3 separate regions of the Homo sapiens genome follow, and all the other regions are linked to region 1. Evidence: fine-mapped expression QTL. A gene starts in region 1. Each other region holds a variant in brackets. All regions are shown on one strand. Distances are from middle to middle. Region 1 holds the start of LINC02319 (long intergenic non-protein coding RNA 2319). Region 2 has its middle 64 kb from the start of PTGDR. Region 3 has its middle 15 kb from the start of PTGDR.

The links. PIP is the estimated chance that this variant, and not a neighbour inherited with it, causes the effect. A credible set is the group of variants that fine-mapping cannot tell apart.
Region 2: its variant is the best candidate, but not a certain one, in a credible set for the expression of LINC02319 in whole blood (INTERVAL, PIP 0.62).
Region 3: its variant is the best candidate, but not a certain one, in a credible set for the expression of LINC02319 in whole blood (INTERVAL, PIP 0.66).

The regions. Positions count from the first base shown.
Region 1 is chr14:52,123,992-52,126,675 of GRCh38, forward strand. LINC02319 (long intergenic non-protein coding RNA 2319) reads right to left here and starts at 1,506. Exons shown (of 3, transcript NR_187197.1): 1 at 1,203-1,506.
Region 2 is chr14:52,202,850-52,205,533 of GRCh38, forward strand. No RefSeq gene overlaps it. Among named protein-coding and RNA genes, the nearest start is that of PTGDR, 64 kb to the right of the region's middle. The variant C/G (reference allele first, on the strand shown) is at 1,143.
Region 3 is chr14:52,281,564-52,284,247 of GRCh38, forward strand. No RefSeq gene overlaps it. Among named protein-coding and RNA genes, the nearest start is that of PTGDR, 15 kb to the left of the region's middle. The variant C/G (reference allele first, on the strand shown) is at 1,155.

The sequences.
Region 1 (2,684 bases):
AGACTGAGCTTTTCAGCATAGGAACAACAAGATACAAATATAAAATCAAATAAGCAAAAACCCTGTAATCATAAAAAATTGGGAAATGTTATTGAAAGACCACCATCTGGACACAAGGGCTCCTTGGGAAAACACCACAAGAATGCAATAAGCCAAAGCTCGAAATTCTACAGAACCTATTATCTGATTTCTTCTACGAATGAATAGCATGAAAAGAAGAGAGGAACTAACGTGTATTTTGTATAGATCTTACTTGGTTTCCAACTCAAGCCAACTTCAAAAAAGACATTTTAGACAACAAGAGAAAGTGGATCACTGGGCATTACGTGAGGTGAAAAAATTACTAGTTTTGTTACATATAATAGTAGTACTGTTATTTGTTAAAACTCCTTATCTGCTAGCAATATATTTTGAAGACTTTACAGATGACATGATACTTCGAATGTGTTTTTACATATCTAGAAAAAAACTGGAAGGGACATAAGTGAAACAAACTTGGTCAGATATCGAAGTTAGGTGGTGTGGGTTCATCATACTATCCTCTAATTTTTGTATGTTTGAAAATATCCTTAATTTTTAAAGGTTAAAAAAAGACTTTATTTAGAAACACTAAAGAAGACAAAAATAAATGGAGAGATATAAGGATGCTTTAAAAAGGTAATTAATTAATTACATTATTTAAAAAGCACAAGAAGACAAGAAAGAATCCAGCTCAAATCCTATGTCCCAGGGTCCAGCAACTAGCAGGGTGTGTCTAAAATTCCCCCAAAGCCGCAGCTGAGGACCTGAACTGGAGGGCAGATGTCCCTCCACCCTCCTTCCTAGGGCAGCAATTAGCACTCCAGTCTTCTGGTTGGAGGCTCTTTGTAGCCTCATAGTTCACAGAGCCCTTTTGGACATGGAGTGAATAGTTGGTTACATTCTCCACATTATTATGCAGATGACATTGCTCATGGTGGATACTAGAGCTGGGGCAGCTGATGAGGAAATCACCAGGGGTGGCTCAGAAAAAAAAAAAATGACCTCCCTAAGGGACACTACAGGAAACCAGCCCCGAAGTGATTTCTTTTGAAATTCGGGGCAGCAGCAAGCTCATATTTCTTTTGGTTAGTTCCTTCACCATGGTTGCCAGTCTCAGTAAAGCTGAGTGTTCCTATCTCCGCCTCTGTCTCCCTCATCAGCTATTGTTTTACCTCACCCACCCAAGGTATGGGAGGCCTCCATTCCATTTAGAGAGCTCCTGGTGCTTCCTGGTGGCTGGTGATGATTCATTTTTATTCCCTTGAATCTTCCCCACGGCCAGATCATTGTTGTCCATATCCTTCCCTCCAGGAAACAACAAAAGGCAATATTTGGTCTTTTGGCTGGAGTCTATGCCGGACCAACACATCCCACAAATGGCTTGAGCTGAGGGTTCCTCCAGCCCCCTGAGATTTCCCAAAGCATTTCGAGATAAACTCTAATAGTAGGATACATTTGCTTTCCAGTTGAAGTGATGGGTTATATGATTCATCTGTTTCCTAAGATTTCCAGTTATAGTCATGAAATCTGGCCTCTGCCCCTGATGTAAAATCCTTGTGTTTACAAGAAGTAACCTAAGTAACCTACCACATGTTCAGAGTTGGAAACCTACTTCCTGTCCCCCGAGTTTGTAAACCCAGCAAGATATATTTTCTCTTTTCAGCCATGCTTGAAAAGTTGGTATAACTGAAATAAGTTTTAAATAAGGCAAATTGGAATAAACTCCAACTCAATGATTTCATCTTCCCAATCCTGCCCCAAATCATGGCCATATCAGTGGGATTTCCAATTGCAAACAGCACCAAACAACACCAAATTCATGTTAGCAAATTTTAAGGATGAGAAGTGACCTCAGCCATCCAGAATTGGATTTGTAGCAGATGACAAATAAGATGCTTAGAATCACAGACCATCAGAGATGGCCGACTTGAGCCAGCATCGACCCTCTCCTTTCACAGGTGAGAAAACTAAAGTCCAAAGACAGTCTTATTTTAAAGCCTAAATTGCAGGGGTAGCGAGTGAAACCAGTTTCAAAATGAGGTTTACCACAGAGGAGCCCAAACCCACTCTCTCACTCATGTCACATTCTGAAGTGTCCTTCTTACTGGTTTCCAACTCTTCACCTCTCTCTTCTTATCTCTTCCCCCTGCCCTCCACACTGCTCCCTGCTGCAGCCACTTTCTCTGCAGCACAGCCCTGATCATATCTCCCCTGGCTCAAAACTATTCCATAGTTCTCGGCCTTGGCTGTTCCCAATGACATTCCAGTTGAACTTCATACTTCACTCGCGTGCCCTGCCCAGTCCATATGGAAAAGTAGCTGCTCCCAAGAGATCTTTGTGCCTATCTCTTTTCCCATGTGATTTTCTCTGCCCAGAAGATTCTTTCTCTTTAACAGGCAAGATCCACCTACCCTTTAGGGGCTCGGTTCAGATACCATTTCCTCCACAAATGCTTCATTCACTCTCCTAAGTGAAAGCCAGTTCTCACCTTTTTGTCTCTTTGCACTGTAGATCTCTATTTTGGCAGGTAACACATTCTATTTCATGTAATACTGTAGTTAATTACGAACATTCTGCATCTTCCCACTTGACACTAAATTCCTGTAAGTGAGAAACTAGATCTTACTTACAACCCCAGCACAGTTATTTGTTTAGCGTGAAC
Region 2 (2,684 bases), 79 kb after region 1:
CACCAGAAGACAGTGTGGCACAGTGGCAAGAGCACTGGCTATGGAATCACCCCTGACCTTGAACCCCAGCTCTGCCTCCAACCAGCTAAGTGACAGTGGGCAACTTAACCTCTTTGAGTCTCCATTTTCTTATTTGTAAGATGGGTGCAGTAATAGCAGCTATCTAACTTGGCTGCTGGAAATATGAGTCCTTACTAGACTCCACAGAGCAACCCTTTCCTGTGACCCCAGTCTCTTCACCTCTCTAGGCTCCTTGCCCCAGCAAGAGGCTCGTGCTTCACCTATCAGCTTAGGCTCCTCCCATCCTTTTTCATTTTTTTAAAGCTTCCTACGAGCTTTGACCTTTTCTAGCCTTATGTCTGTCTTTGTTTTGTTGCACATTACTTCATCTTGGATCCTTGATGGCAAATGCCTGTCAGTACTCTTCTCCAAATGATTTTCAGGGAGCCCAATCTCCATAAAGCATTAGTGGAATAGGATTACCTAAGAAAAAGTGCCCCTAGGGCCAAATAAATTTGAATAAGTATGGGTTAAAGAATATTAAGCCAGGTTATTTTACTAGGGGATTTCTCAGATGTGCTAATGTGCATTACAAGACAGGTAAATCATGTAAAGTTTTACACAAACTGAACTGACCATATGACTTTTTTAACTGAAGAATCATATGACACTAGTATTCCTCAAAACACATTTTATTAGAAGGGAGACAATGGTTCAAACAGTTACTGTATTCATTATTTGCCCCATTCCCTGCCTTTTGGGAAACCTAGTCTGGGGCTCCTGACTCTCCCCAACTGCCTCCTCACAATAGTCAACTGAGCCATAGTTGGCTGAGTTAAAAGATGTTCATTCAGTACAAGAAGACTCCAGTTAATATAGGAAAGTAATATTAAAATTATCAATGGTCATCGACAAGATCAAGATGAAGATGGTTCTACCTGATAGCGAAAACTTTAGAGTAAACTGTAGATAGAGTCAGTCTTGGGAAACAAAAGAAAAACACAAGGCGAGTCCTGACATTCCAAAAAGCAAGGAGCATTGCTACTAGTAAATGTCAGATTAAAAAAAGCTTTTCTCCAGGGTTATTTTTAAATCATTTTAAGATTCCTGTAATAGCCAAGAATTTACATCATTTTTGATAA[C/G]TACATGACAACTTAATTATTCTAGCCAGAGAACTACAAATTACTAGCAGATCGTAAGTTAGGATTTTGAGTCTCATGCTTTACATTTTACAGACCTGAGAAATCTAGCTAGTGGAAATATTCCAAGTCTTTAAAACATGATTCTGGGATGAAACAAAGTGGCAATTTTTAAAATATATATTTTAAGACTGATTTTACCTCTTTTGTTGTGATTTTATGATGAGCAATTTATAAACATAAACATTAATATATTTAACATGATATAGCTAATAACCAGTTCTTCCATGCTCCTATCTAAATGCTAACATTTAGACACCATAGTAGCAGGTGTCTAGGCTTCAGATGAAACAGGGACTCAGTCCCATCAGCATCTCGGGGTTGGTAAAACTTCTATGTGTATTTGGCCTGGGGACGGGGAAGCTCACAAAGCTCTTCTCTTCTCCCAGAGATTCTCTCTTTTATTTTGCACCAAGTTTTCTAGTGGGTAGAGCCACAGGGTTTAAAAGCTCTAAAGATAAGCCTCCCTATCCATGAGCATGGAATGTTTTTCCATTTGTTTGTGTCATCTCTAATTTCTATGAGCAGTGTTTTGTAGTTCTTCTTGTAGAGATATTTCACCTAGAAATACCAAAGTTTTAGGTATTTTATTATTTGGTGGCAATTGCGAATGGGATTGCATTACTGATTTGGCTCTCAGCTGACTGTTGTTGGTGTATAAAAATGCTAGCGATTTTTGTACATTGATTTTGTATCCTCAGACTTTGCTAAAGTTGTTTATCAGCTAAAGGAGCTTTTGGGCCAAGACTATGGGTCCAAAAGGGTCTAGATATAGGAGCATGTCAACTGCAAACAGAGATAATTTGACTTCCTCTCATTCTGGGCCTAGGAATGAGCAAAGATTTCATTGCAAAGATGCCAAAGGCCATTGCAACAAAAGCAAAAAGTTGATAAATGGGACCTTATTTAAGAGCTTTTGCATAGCAAAAGAAACTATCAACAGAGTAAACAGACAACTTACAGAATGGGAGAAAATTTTTGCAAACTATGCATCAGACAAAGGTTTAATATCCAGAATCTATAAGAAACTTCAACGAATTTACAATAAAAAAAAACCCCATTAAAAAGGTGGCACAGGACATGAATAGACACTTTTTCAAAAGAAGACATATATGCAGTCAACAAGCATATGAAGAAATGCTCAACATCACTGATCATTAGAGAAACGTGAATCAAAACTACAATGAGATACCATCTCACACCAGTCAGAATGGCTATTACTAAAAAGTCAAAAAAATAACAGATGCTGGTGAGGTTGTGGAGAAAAAGGAATGCTTATACATCTACCAGATGGTGAGAACTATAATATGAAAACAAATAATATGTGGGTGGAAGTGTAAATTAGTTCAACCATTGTGGAAAAGTGTGGTGATTTCTCAAAGACCTAAAAACAGAAATAACATCTGACCCAAAAATCTCATTACTGGGTATATACCCAAAGGAATATAAATCATTCTATCATAAAGACACATGCACGCATATGTT
Region 3 (2,684 bases), 160 kb after region 1:
CACTCCCTAAGATGTGCAACGGCTCTGAGTAGGATTTCCCCTCAGAAGAACGTACTTAGGGTGTAATCTCAGCTAGCAGGTGCAAATAAGGAGCTGATCTCCCATGCCTTGAGCCCCTGACACACTGTGCCAGGTAGCCACGATACCAGTTCAGCGAGTAACGGCCCTGAAAAGCTAGGTCCCCAAGCAGCACACTTTGGATCCAACAAACCCTCCGACTTGGTCAAATCTGAAGGAAAACTCTAAATTATGTGGAAGGAGCCCTTTAAGTTGGCTGAAACCCCCACAGCTGTGGAACACAAAGTTCCACCCTTAGAAACTCTGGCCAGGTATATGCAAAAACACTTATGGTGAATTGTCATGCAAATATTTAATCAAGTGGACCACTATAATCAAGGCAGATTCTAACCTACAGAGGCCTAGATGGGGATCTTCTGAGATGCCCAAATTAGTGTACCTGTGAACTAGGATGCAAAACGCAGGCACAAAACTAAACAACCAGAATGGGAGAGCTACTTTCAATGGTACCTAGAGAGTAGCAAATGGGGGGAAGATCACCTCATGTCCTTACAATAAGCCAACAAACAACTTAGAAATGCTAACCAAGGACTCTCTAAAGTTCTATCTCTCTTAAAGAAATCCCCAGAATCCCTTACTTCCCTGTGGCACCTCCCCACCTCCACTTACACCCCCACTTTACCCCTGACCTCTCTGAACTTCCCGGACCAGATCTGTTCCCTCCTTCTCCTGCATGTTCTAATTTAACATCTTCCTCTCCTTGTACACCACTCACTCAACAGAAGGCAGTAGGGAGTCTAACTTCCAAGACCCTACCTCCTGACAATTCCCTGACAGTGCCAGTGGCAGCCTCTCATCTGGAAGATGTGGAAAAGGGGGACCCTGCAGGGCCATCTCTCATGATCACCCTGTTTTGGGAACAACCGGTAACACATAGGGGAACCCCGGTGATTGTCTACCAACGCTGGTCAAAGGCTGAGTTGCAGGGCATAAAGAATTTCTGGGCCCCCATAAGATCCAATTGAGTTTGCCCAAGAATTTGAATTCATTATCAGAACCTATGACCCAGGCCATTCAGACCTCTAACAGCTGGCACACATGTTGGTCTCGGAAGCTAAAGCTAAGGAATAGCTGGA[C/G]AAAGTACAGTGGTCAGACCCTGTAGCAGACTTAACCCTTGAAGGCCCAATAGAGCTACAATAACCAGCCCCCAGAAGTCGAGAACACAGACACAAAGATGTGTGGGAATGAGCAACTGCTCTGTTAAATACCATTTCTTCAATATTCCAAAGGGTTGTGGATTGGGATAAAATCCAGCAATGCCACCAGAACCGAAATGAATCAATTTTAGATTATTTTATACATTTTGACTGAGATAATATGCTCCAAATAATTAACTTACACTCTCTCGCCTGGTCCTTCTGACGAAACCCCTCATGACTATGTTCTGATGACTGACCAACTTCTCACTTCTGGGACAGACTTACAAGAGATGCCACTGGATAATGCTGAGATAGAATGGTATACAGATGGGTCTTATTTAAGAGGATGGGGATGGAAATTTTAGAGCAGGATATGCTGTGGTCTCTTTACTAGAGGTAGTTGAAGCTGGTCCTCTTCCTCAAGCCAAATCAGCTGAAGGGGCCAAATTGATTGCCCTGACTCAAGCTTGTCGATTAGCAAAAGACAAGGCTGCAAACATACCCTGACACCTGCTAAGCATTTGGAGTTGCTCAGGACTTCGGAATGTGAAAGGAGAGAGGATATTTAACCTCCTCAGGGCAACCCATAAAAAATGGACAACCAACTCTCAGAGCTGTTAGAAACTATTCTCAACCAAAACTTTTGACAGTTGTAAAAATCCCAGGTCACTCTACATTGGACACCACTAAAAGTGGAGATAACAAATTTGCTATTGCTACAGCTGAAAAAGCAGCATTCAAGCCACCAGACCCAATCCAAAAAAATGATCATAAAGCCTGAAACACTTAAAAACATGTTGAAGGAAACCTAGAGTATAGCCCCAACAAAAGAGAAATCCACTTGGAAACAGACAGGGGAATACCTGTCTCCTGAAACTAAAATATTGTATGGACTTAATAATAAACCATTATTCCAATGGGATGTCAGGTGCCCCTTAAGGAATGTGTTAATAATCTGACACGATGGAATCCAGATAAAAGTATATCCTAGTGTAAACAATGTTACTGGAAACGATCCTCCACAGTGGCACAAAAGGTTTATTCCCAGTGTGCTATTTGTCCTAAGGATAATCCACGGAAGCTCCTCCATGAGGCCCAGGGTCATTTTCCCCTTCCAGCTGGACCTTTTGAGGTATGGCAGCTTGATTTTATCCAGCCGCCATCCTCTCAAGGTTACATGTCTTAGTAATGGTCTGCATGTTTTCCCATTGGGTTGAAGCTTTTCCCTGCAGGCAAGCAACAGCGATGGCAGTTGGAAAACTTTATTAGAAAAAATTATTCCACTGTGGGGAGTCCACTGTGAACTTTACGTGATAGAAGAACTCATTTTCCTGGTCAAGTTATTCAAAATATTTGTGAAATTTGGCCCATATTTCAACATTTCCATTGTGCCTACCATCCCCAGTCCTCAGAGCTGGCGGAAAGGACCAATGGAATAATTAAAACACAATTGGCTAAGTTCATAAA